Linked DNA regions of Homo sapiens. The protein of the gene in region 2 interacts with the protein of the main gene of each other region in a biochemical or structural test. Each region holds a gene or a part of one and is shown on either strand. Other genes may lie near its edges.

The links.
Region 1: the proteins of SHROOM4 (region 2) and MAP2K2 interact in a test that uses a peptide from one of them, tested with the Homo sapiens proteins (one large-scale study listed by IntAct).
Region 3: the proteins of SHROOM4 (region 2) and RASSF6 interact in a test that uses a peptide from one of them, tested with the Homo sapiens proteins (one large-scale study listed by IntAct).

What each region holds. Positions count from the first base shown.
Region 1 is NC_000019.10:4,096,593-4,100,246, forward strand, and holds part of MAP2K2 (dual specificity mitogen-activated protein kinase kinase 2), read right to left. Parts: intron 2,823-3,654; coding exon 2,609-2,822; intron 752-2,608; coding exon 687-751; intron 1-686. UniProt on the Homo sapiens protein: Catalyzes the concomitant phosphorylation of a threonine and a tyrosine residue in a Thr-Glu-Tyr sequence located in MAP kinases. Activates the ERK1 and ERK2 MAP kinases.
Region 2 is NC_000023.11:50,807,609-50,811,262, reverse strand, and holds part of SHROOM4 (protein Shroom4), read left to right. Parts: intron 1-3,654. UniProt on the Homo sapiens protein: Probable regulator of cytoskeletal architecture that plays an important role in development. May regulate cellular and cytoskeletal architecture by modulating the spatial distribution of myosin II.
Region 3 is NC_000004.12:73,585,829-73,589,482, reverse strand, and holds part of RASSF6 (ras association domain-containing protein 6), read left to right. Parts: intron 1-1,548; coding exon 1,549-1,643; intron 1,644-3,654.

The DNA.
Region 1 (3,654 bases), on a different chromosome or scaffold from region 2:
GACGGAGCAGGAGCCACCCCGGGACCTACAGGTCCTTCTAGGCTCTCTGGGCCTCCTTCCAAGAGGCAAGGGCCATTCCTGTACCTTTCTCCGTGGAAGCGGGGTGATTTATGAGTCCACGCCCACGGGCGCCAGGACGCTCTGATGCAGAGACACTGGGCCACTGCTCAAGGGGCAGGCTGGCTCCTCGGCCTGAGCCCAGGGCTGCTGGCACACACCTCCCTCTGGACTCAGGGTGAGAGGCTGCGGTGGGAATTCTGGGTTCGTCTTCATAAAAAAACAATGCCCTTGGGAAGGAGCTGGGCTTGTGCAGCACAGTAGAAGATGGGAGACGCGACACACGTGGAATTGGTTCAAGAATTGCTTGAACCTGGGAGGCGGAGGTTGCAGTGAGCTGAGATCAAGCCACTGCACTACAAAGCTAGACAATGTCTCAAAAAAAAAAAAAAAAATTAGCTGGGTGTGGTGGTGCGCACCTGTAATCCCAGCTACTCGGGAGGCTGAGGCACGAGAATCACATGAGCTTGGAAAGTGGAGGTTTCAGTGAGCCGAGAAGGCACCACTGTACTCCAGCCTTGGTGACTCTTGCTCTGGTCAGAGAGAGACTCTGCCTAAAAAAAAAAAAAAAAAAAAAAAGAAAGAAGAAAGAAAAGGAAAAGAAAAGCCAAAAGGCATCAAGCACAAACCTCGTTCACAATATAGTCCAGGAGTTCAAAGATGGCCATGGCAGGCCGGCTATCCATCCCGTGACCTGCACAGGGAGAGAGATGGAGGTGAGATGGGCCGATGGCCACCTCACTTCTGCTGGGGGTTGGGCTCCCAGGGGGCTGATCACCACCAGGCGCCCTCCTCCACATGCCAGCCTAAATTGGAGGCGGGTGTGCAGAGGCACTGGACAAAGCTCCCCTGCCTGACTCTGGGTTCCATTCCCTGGGACAGCTACTCCTTGCCTGAGCCTCTAGTGAATTAAAAAAAAGGCAAAAGGAACAAGAACATTTTTTGAGAAGTCACACATTTGGCTCGGTGAGGCTTGCCGGACGTGCCAAAGTCATCACCCCTCCTCTCTGGAGGGCAGGGGGAGGGACGGTGCTGACCGCAGGCAAGGACAGCCGCGTGACCTTGCATGGAGCTGCTGGCGGTGATGGGGGCAGGCCCCAAGTGCCACTCAGGACGGGAGACTGGCTAGGGGTGGCTGACCCCTGTCTGAGAACCAGCTGGCCAGGCCTGGGCTTGGCAGCTGGACTTTCGCCTTCTGCCCGTCCTGAAATGGGCAGGTGGGCTGGGGCCCTGGGCTGGGGATGGTATACCACCTGAGAGTTGGGACTGGGAGAGGCTGAGGCTAGGCCTGAGGATAAGGACTTGGGGGCCTCTCCCTGGGATGAGATCAAGACATCCCAGCAGTCTGGCTGGAGAGGAGGAGGTGGGCTTGCCAGTGCTATGAAAATCTCCTTCTCACAGCCCCAATCCATCCGGGTAGGACCACAAAACGTGGCCTGTTCGTGTCATAAAATACTACTCAGCCTTTCAAAAGGACCCAGGCTCTGACACGCACCATGGCGTGGATGACCCTTGAGGACACTGCGCTCCAGGAGAGAAGCCACACACAAAACACAGAAGGCCACACAAGTGTGTGACCCCATTTCTGTGAAATGCCCAGGACAGGCCAGTCCAGAGGCAGGAAGGGGATGGAGAGTGACAGCTGATGGGGACAGGGTTTCCTCTTGGGGAGCTGAGAAGGTTCTGGAATTAGAGGTGATGGGGCGCAGCACTGTGACTGAAAACCACTGAACTGCTCACCTGAAATGAGTTGTGGGGTGTGTGCTTTGTAGTTCGGAAACATGGTTTTAAAACCAACCACAGTCCGCTACAGGGTCCTTTGGGGTCTGACGCCACCAACTCTCCCTGATGTCTGACTTTAAAAAAAATCACAGGACCCTCCTGTGATTCTGCACCAAGCAGGGTCCGCCCCCGGCTCTTCCCTCAGGCGGTGGAAGTGTCCGCTCGGCCCTCTCTGACTGGCGTCAGGGAGCTCCCGCTCCCGAGGTGCCCGCCCTAAGTGCCGGATTGTCCTCTGCGAGCCCAGCTGTCCCTGGGGCCTGAGCCCTCCCGCCCCCTCCCGGGCTGTGTCCCCTCCTGTGTGTGTTGGGGCCGGAGCCAACAGGCCACTGAGGGCCATGCCAAGTCCAATCTCCACTTCAGGACTCCCTGGAAGGCTTGGCCCGCAGCACAGGAGCGTGTCACCTGCAGAATGCAGGCTCTGTGGCGGCCAATTCCTTCCACTTTTCTGTGCGTTTGAATGCTTTCGGGATAAAATGTTGGAAAATCCAACTGCCCAGGGGCTTGGTGGCAAAGCTGCGCTCCCAGATCCCTCCAGCTGGCAACAACAGGTGCAGCTGCCCCGGACAGAACAGGTTTGGGGTGCTCACTGCTTCCAGCTCTGTCCCCGGAAACCCCAGGACCATGGGAGGACTGCTGACCACAGTCGGCACCATCCAGGGGGACAGGTGGTGCGCCAGGGGCAGAGGGGAGGCAGCTGCTGACCCTGGCACAGCAGGCCCCGCGCAGGGCACTGCGCGTCCAGACCGGAAGTTGCAGATTCAGGCCGTACCGCTGACGGGGCGCCCGGGGGGCCTCGGCCGAGGCGAGATGCTGTGAGGCTCTCCTTCTTCCCCGTCGACCACGGGCCGGCCAAAGATGGCCTCCAGCTCTTTGGCGTCGGGCGGGGGGATGGGGTACCTTCCGACGGCCAGCTCCACCAGGGACAGGCCCATGCTCCAGATGTCCGACTGCACCGAGTAATGTGTGCCCTGCAACCGCTCCGGCTGCAGCAGAGCCAGGGAGGAAAGAGCCCAGAGGGGCGAGGATGGCAGCTGGAACCCGGGAGGCTTGCCCCGTTACAGCCCCCGTCACCCTCTCCATGGCTAATGACCGCAGCAATGGATAGAGAGCTGTTACGCAATTCTACCTCCCGGCTCACCCACCCAGGGCCTCCCTGCGGCACTTGCTGAAGAGGCTTCCAGCCCGAGGCCTGGAGCTGGTGTTGACCGCAGCTCTTGAAGAGCCTGCAATGCTCAGCACTTTTGGGAATGGATGATGGGCCCCAGGAAGCAGGGGCCTCCTCCTCCACAGCTAACATCTCAGAGGCTGCTCCAAGGCTCAATTTGGCAGGTTGCTGAATCCCCAGTCGTTTCCTGAAAGACCCCAGATTCCAATTCCTTGGTCCAGAAATTAACTAAGGGCCGGGTGCAGTGGCCCATGCCTGTAATCCCAGCACTTTGGGAGGTTGAGGTGGAAGCCCAGGAGTTAAGACTAGGCTAGCCAATATGGCGAGACCCCATCTCTACTAAAAACATTTTTTTAAAAGTTAGCCAAGGCTGCCGGGCACGGTGGCTCACGCCTGTAATCCCAGCACTTTGGGAGGCCGAGGCGGGCGGATCACAAGGTCAGATTGAGACCATCCTGGCTGACATGGTGAAACCCTGTCTCTACTAAAAACACAAAAAATTAGCCGGGCGTGGTGGCGAGCGCCTGTAGTCCCAGCTACTCGGGAGGCTGAGGCAGGAGAATGGTGTGAATCCGGGAGGCGGAGCTTGCAGTGAGCGGAGATGGCGCCACTGCACTCCAGCCTGGGTGAGAGTGTGAGACTGTGTCTCA
Region 2 (3,654 bases):
CCAGCTCGGCTCACTGCATCCTGTGCCTCCCAGGCTCAAGCAACCCTCCCACCTCAGCCTCCCAAGTAGCTGGGACTACAGGCACACGCTACCATGCTTGGCTGATTTTTTGTATTTTTGTATTTTTGTATTTCACCATGTTGCCCAAACTGGTCTCCAACTCCTTCAAACAATCTGCCTGCCTCAGCCTCCCAAAGTGCTGGGATTACAGGCGTGAGCCACCACTCCTGGCCAAATAGCTAATCTTTTATGCTAGCTCTGGCTCTCTTCTCAGAAGTGTTGCTGCAGAGTGAGGAAAATGAAGCTTTGCTTCATTTGCATACAGTGTTACTATTTACAATGTGCTTCCTCATCCTTTATTTCATTACTCTCTTGCAGCTACACTGTGAGGCAGTCAGGAAAGATTGTGGAGAAACTGATGGAAAACCCGAGACTGATGTATTCAGTGGCTTACCTATGTCTATCATACTGAGAGTCAATGGCAGTCCTACTAAGAGAGTTTCTGATTCTTCTGTTAGTACTGTGGTTTGTGAAGGAGCACAGGGCAATAACTTTCAGGGATGTATCTAGTCTTATTAGCCTCCTAATGCAGTGTCCCTTTCCATGCCAGCCTGTAATTCCATACTTGGTGACGGACTGGGTTGTAGGTACACTCTGATGGAGTCTGGGCTCAGAGTAGGAAAGGACTATTTTGATGACCCCAAATCACTTGTGATGATCTCAGGTCAGGGAGAGACAGAGGTAAGGTGCAGGAAGCATGGTGGAAAATGGCAGAGAACCTCCTTTGTGGAAAAAAAACCAGAAGCGGTTTGCATCAGGGATGGTGTGGCATACATGCTCAGAGATATCTTGTGGCACAAGTGGAGATATCTGGGGAGTGGGGGAATTTGAAAAAGTAGTGATTAGTGGGGGAAGAGGGTATGCAGTGTGAAAGTCTAGTTCATAGTTGTCATGGGAGACCCTTTGGACCAGGAAATGATCAAGTTGGGGAAATCATCAATTCCTGCTGGTTCCTATGATTTCCCTGAATATGGGGAATTCAACTGCCTGATTTATGGACACTTGTATAGTACCCCCCGACAGTCAAGTGGCAAAGAAAGAGAAAATTTTTTAATACTATTGCTGGATGCGGTGTCTTGCACCTGTAGTCCCAGCTACTCAGGAGGCTTAGGTAAGAGGAATCCCTAGAGCCCAGGAATTCCAGGCTGCAGTGTACCATGATTGGGCAACATAGTGTGACCCCACCTCCAAAAAATAAAATACGATTGATTATCCTAAATAATAAGGGATAGTTTATGATGTTTCCCTATATTGTGGTGTTTCGAGTGAGATCATGGTAACAAGTAAAAGATACATGACCCATAAAGGAATAGGGCCCATGACATTGGCATTATTGATTCCTTTGGTTAACATGTTACGCTACCTCATTGACTCAGAAGTACTGTCTGGATGGAATGGGGATTCTCTTCTAATCAGATGTGTCTGATGATATGTAGGCTCATGCTAACATATTTTCCCTTTTCTTGGCTCGTTTATGGTAGATGTTTCTATCTGGCATAGTGAAGCAAGTGGGGCTAGTTACTGCCCTGGAACAAAACAGAGTGGGGTAGGGGAGTAACCTGGAGGAGAAAGAAGCTTTACTCCCATCCACTTGATGTGCTCTGATATTGCTATATAATTTTACACTCTCCAGACCCAAGTCTCTATTTGCAGAGTGGGGCCTAGGCATAACTGCCCCATCTCTATTATCACAGATGATGAGACAATGAATTAGGCAAACTCTAATAGTGTTTGCCATCCTTAGCCTAGGACAGTGGCAGGGCATGCTCATCAAGTTGTTTTAGTCTGTATTCCATTCCTAGTCTGACCTTATTTCTAGAAGCACACAGAGAGGCAGTTGAGACTTCAAGAGGATCTGGATAAACTCAGATAGAGGTTGTCTTGTGGCTGGAAGTAAATTTGGCTGTGATTTTGAATTCTTATTGGGTGCAGAGGTGGTATTATGTGAACAATGAGAGTTCCTGTGAAATCTTTTGAGCTGTGTTACAGACCAGTGCCTGGCACTCACAAAGGGACCTTCGTGGGGTGTGCATCTTTGGAGCTTAGTCCAGCCTGGTTACCTACATGAATCCCCTCCTCATTTCTGCCTCTAGAATCACCAAAGATGTCCACTACCTCAGTTTCCCACCTGCTGCCCTATCCCAGAAAGTAGAGGGCATTTTGAGGCATGGATTAGAAATCCATCAGAGAGATACAAAGAAGGTTGGAGGGAGGTGGAGCAAGAAGGGTGGGTGGTATGGCTGGTAACCCTTGGCTGAGCTTTGAGTCGATACTACTTTTGGCCCTGCTGGGTTTTCATAATACACCTGGTACCCCATTGAGAGCCACATGTATGCTTGCTGAAGTTAAAAAAGGTCAAGCCTATTAGAGGATTTTCCCTCTCCAAAACTTCACACAAAGAAAATAATTCAACTCCATTGTCCCTTAAAAAAATTAAAATGATTTCCCCCCTTGCCTTCCCCAACCCCCTCCCCAGGAATTTCTTTAAAGAAAAAAGAGAGACTCAGACTTGAGATTGGAGGTTATGGATGATTATCTGGAGGGAACATCATGGCTTTTATAGTTAGACTTCTTTAGAACTAAGGGAAAAAAGATGCTGACCCATCTGAGAAAAGTTAATGAAGAACAGCAGGGATTATGGGAAGGGCTGCTCTCACTGCCTGCCCCTCTACCCCTCAAGCACCAAGGGGCAGACTTAACTCAGTGCTCCCAGAGTAATTCTGTTCTTGGTAGAGACCTAGAATCAAAGAATCTCAGAGTAAAGAGAGCCTTTTAGAAGTCACCTAGTCTAATCTTAACCATTTCATGAGCCTCCTGTGCAGTGTCCCTGAGCTTGTTCTACAGTAGTCACAGGGGAGCTCATTCCCTTCTAAGCCTATCCATTCTGTTGCTGGAAAGTTTTGACTGTGGACAGCTTTTCCTTTGTTAAGCTGCAATCGTTTTCCTTTTAGCGATCATCCATGGGTCCTAGCTGTATCCTCTGGATAGCATCACACAGAACAAGGGTGCTTCCTCTGTCTTGGGACAGCCCTTGGGATATCTGAAGGCAAATATTATATCATCTTGTTTCACTTTTCTAGCAGAGCCCTAGCTCTTTCAGCTGTTCCTTATGGGATGTAGATTCCAGCCTCTCCTCCTGTTTCCTCCTCCCACTCATGATGCACTTCAGCTTGTCCATGTTCCTCTTAAGTTATGGATCCCACAGCTGAATACTGTAACTGAGGAGAATCTGACCACAGTTGAGTATGAACATTCTTTAAAAAAATACAGCTGAAGATCACTTTGGCTCTTTCTGGCGGCCATGTCATACCAAGGCCCTGTGTCAAAATCTTTTAATGGAAGTAGCTGTGCTGCTATTAAGCCATACCTGCCTAAGGCCTCTATGAAGGCATCTGGGACAGCCACATAATAGATTTGGGAGGGACACATTTCATCTCCTACTATTTATTTAGAATTGCCTCTGCCCCTAGCCCTGGCCAGCCTTGGTAAATGCATCGTAGGGGAGATGAGAGAGAAGATATAAGCCCTGACTTCAAGGAACATGTATGTTTAAACAAAGAGATTATTAAGTTACAGAGAAGGAATTTGTATAAT
Region 3 (3,654 bases), on a different chromosome or scaffold from region 2:
CCTGGGGATTCTTATCTTTAGCCCTATGACATAGCATCAGGTTACTTTGCATTTTTAGTTTCTGTTTTTCATTGGTATTGACTTTTCCATTCCTAACCCCCCTTCTACGATAATTATGTCTGCCACTTTCTGATTATTAAGCTGCTATAGATTTGGGGAAATGGGTAATTTTATCTGCCATAAGACTAATTAGATTCTGAGTCAGGACCTGGTAGTTTTCCTTTGAGTTAAAGTTATTACCTGTAGTTGGGCTTTATGACATTTGTTTTGATTGGCTGTATTCTGAATAGTACAGCTTGCTGGAAAATTAACAAATATATTAGGATTACCTTCTCTACATCATAAGGCTATTGTGAGACTCAAATGATATAGTAGCCATAAAACACGCTTCAAAAGAATTCAAAAGTAAAGAGGATAAGGGATGACTTTCTTCATATTCACTACCATTAGTATTAATAAATATTTTTTGTTGCCACCAATGAAATTCGGGCAGAGTCAATGCCATAAATTCCCTATAAGTGAATATATTTTAGTCATAAGAAAAACAGACATTACTGAAGAGATTCTTAGATAATAGCAACCATTTGCCTAGAGAGATCCAGGAACACCTTGGGTCCCTAATGGTTCCTGGCCCATCAGGAATGAAATAGATACAGATGCTGGTGATGATGATGATGATGATGATGATGATGATGATGACAATGGAGATGAGGATAATTATAATTATTGTTAATCTATATTGAATGCTTACTATTTTCAGGGCACTGATTCAAGAATTTTATACAAATTAACTCTTTTAATCCTCAAAACAACCCTATCCTACCTCATGCTATTATCATTTTTATTTTACAGATGAGGACACAGGCACAGAGGGGATAAGAAACTTGTTTAAGACCAGATAAATAAAATAAAATTGAGTTTTGACCTGCCGTAAAAATAAACATTTGTCAGGTTTCATGTATTCTGAGCACTAGAATGCACTTAAAATTGCTAGTTTCTTTATGAAATCATAATTTTCTGGCAAAATTCTCATACATTTTCCTCCTTCGTAAACTACATTCTTCATGGTAGTCAAGGGCCTTAAACGATAGGCACTATATTTTATTATTTTAGAGCCACTCTACCTAACAATGTTTTGAATGCAAAAGGTACAATACATATTGACAGAATGTATAAAGAACACTTTTATACCCAAGCTCCCCTAAGAGTATTGTGAAATATCTTTATAACAATTGATCATCTTGGTTTCTACTAATTCAATTTGGACATATGTTTTACAGAATCTATATAACTTGTGTTTCAGTATGTAACTGAATTATTACGTCAAAAAGATATGCTCTATAAAAGTACAGGAAGCATTTAAAACATATATTGACCACTTTGGTATGAATATAATTTTAATAATATCATAAAATTGTTATAACTTTGGACAATATATCCACCTACAGAGGCCCACAGTATTACTATATTAATATTGTAAATCTGGAAACCATCATAGGCTTCAATATAAATGGAACTGATGTACTTACAAGATTTATTACTTCTCAGAATGACACGCTGGGGGGAATTTGACGATCTCTATCGTATTAGTGAGCTGGACAGGACCCAGATTCCTATGTCTGAAAAAAGGAATTCCCAGGAAGGTCAGTATCAAAATCTTATTGATTGGGAGACTTAATTTTTAATTAGTGTAAAGTATGACTCCATATGTTTCTCTGAAATCTAACCTTTTTCATACTACTACACAATAAACTCTTGTTTTATATGTATATATATTTTTAAATATCTTAGGAGCATAGTAACTTAAGTCACTATAGTGCTTGTATGATGTTTAAGAACCTTACTTTGGTATATAAAAATATAATTCTTAAAAAAATTATATTATGTCACTTAGATTTATTAGAATAGGGAGAGCTAATAGTTTTAATAAAGTTTGTATTCATAAAATTGTTAAATATCTTCCCCAAAGATTAGAGTCATTTATTATTCCCAATAGCTTTATATGTTAGGCCAAGCCCATCAGACCTAATTCTGTATCTTTTTAGAAGTTGAACGTTTTAGTTAGTTAATAGATATGTCAATAACATTACTTCTCAGAAAGACACAGATATGCTGGAGTCAATTTTATATTTGATAGAGTTATTTCAGAGATCTTTTTAAAAGAGAAATATACTTAAGGATCAAATGGATCCATACTGAACTTGGCAAACCAATGGGAAATGCCAGCTCCAGGGATGTGTGACATTAGTAGTTATAATCATAATGGTGATGATGTGAGAGTAATAATAGTGATATTGATAGCTGTAATCTGATGAGACTCTGGTAAGTATCAGGCATAATATTTTGTACTTTATATGAATTTTTTCATGTAATTCTCATAAACACATAAGATTCAAAGAGTAGTGGATGCTGATGACTGAAGCTAGAATGAGGGGTGGTGGACAGGGTTCATGTGCCTGAAATGGGGCTGTGATTTACGAAGTCAGTTCAGTGTGAACAAAGGTATCCCACTAGCATTAACTTCATAAGCCTACCAGCAACTTGCAATGTTTGTTCTCTTTTTTTTTTTTTCAAATCATTCTCAATTCTGCCTCGTCTGCTATTCCACAGGAACCCAGATCCTGTGACAAACATGATGTTCCTTCCAGGGTTCCCTTTTCTCTTTATGCCATGGGATCTTTACATCTTGTTAAATATCGGCCCTTCCAATTATCTTTTAGAAATATATATGAAACCCAAGGAAATCCCAGTATCTTGGCATCAAAGACATCATAAAAATATATTTGTATTTAAACAGCAGTGCTAGAGAAGGAAGAAATATCTCATGCCTATTTGATAATGTTCTAATTACAGTAGAAAATTTTTTAAAATCCTAAAGTAAAATAAAACACAAATGCCACCACATGGTCTTATTCTTACATATGAATATGCATAGGAGAGGAAATTGAAAAAGGTACTATCAATTGTATACAAGCAGAAAGGGGGGCAGAAGGCAGGTTTGAATCTTCTGCATCTTAGGCTAGTAACACATTGTAGCTCAATTCAATTCCATTTAAACACCTTCTGCCTACTCAATAGATACTAGAGTTGTTCAACGCTACACTATAATTTTATACTCTAAAATCTGCTATAGAAATTGTAATAATTCAGTAACCAAATTTTGACTAATCAATTATGAATCATTGTTAAATATACATGACTCAATGAGAAGAAATAATAGGATAGTGGACAACTAAGTGAAAAAGTCATTCATATCATACATCTGGAATGTTCTAAAAAGAACATAATGTGATATATTACAAATAGTAGGACTAGTCCAAAGCATACTATTCCTTTTGCTTTTATAAAAGATGGGAACAAAATCTTTCAATGCTCCACATACCATATAAATAGCTTCTCAAAGAGCTTTCTGTAGTTTTATAGGAAAACTAAGGCCCAGTGTTTATTTTTTAGGAAAAGCTCCAAAGAACTTGGGCCAACATATAATGGGGTGGGGGGAGGGGGGAGGGATAGCATTAGGAGATATACCTAATGCTAAATGACGAGTTAATGGGTGCAGCACACCAGCATGGCACATGTATACATATGTAACTAACCTGCACATTGTGCACATTACCCTAAAACTTAAAGTATAATAATAATAAAATAAAAATA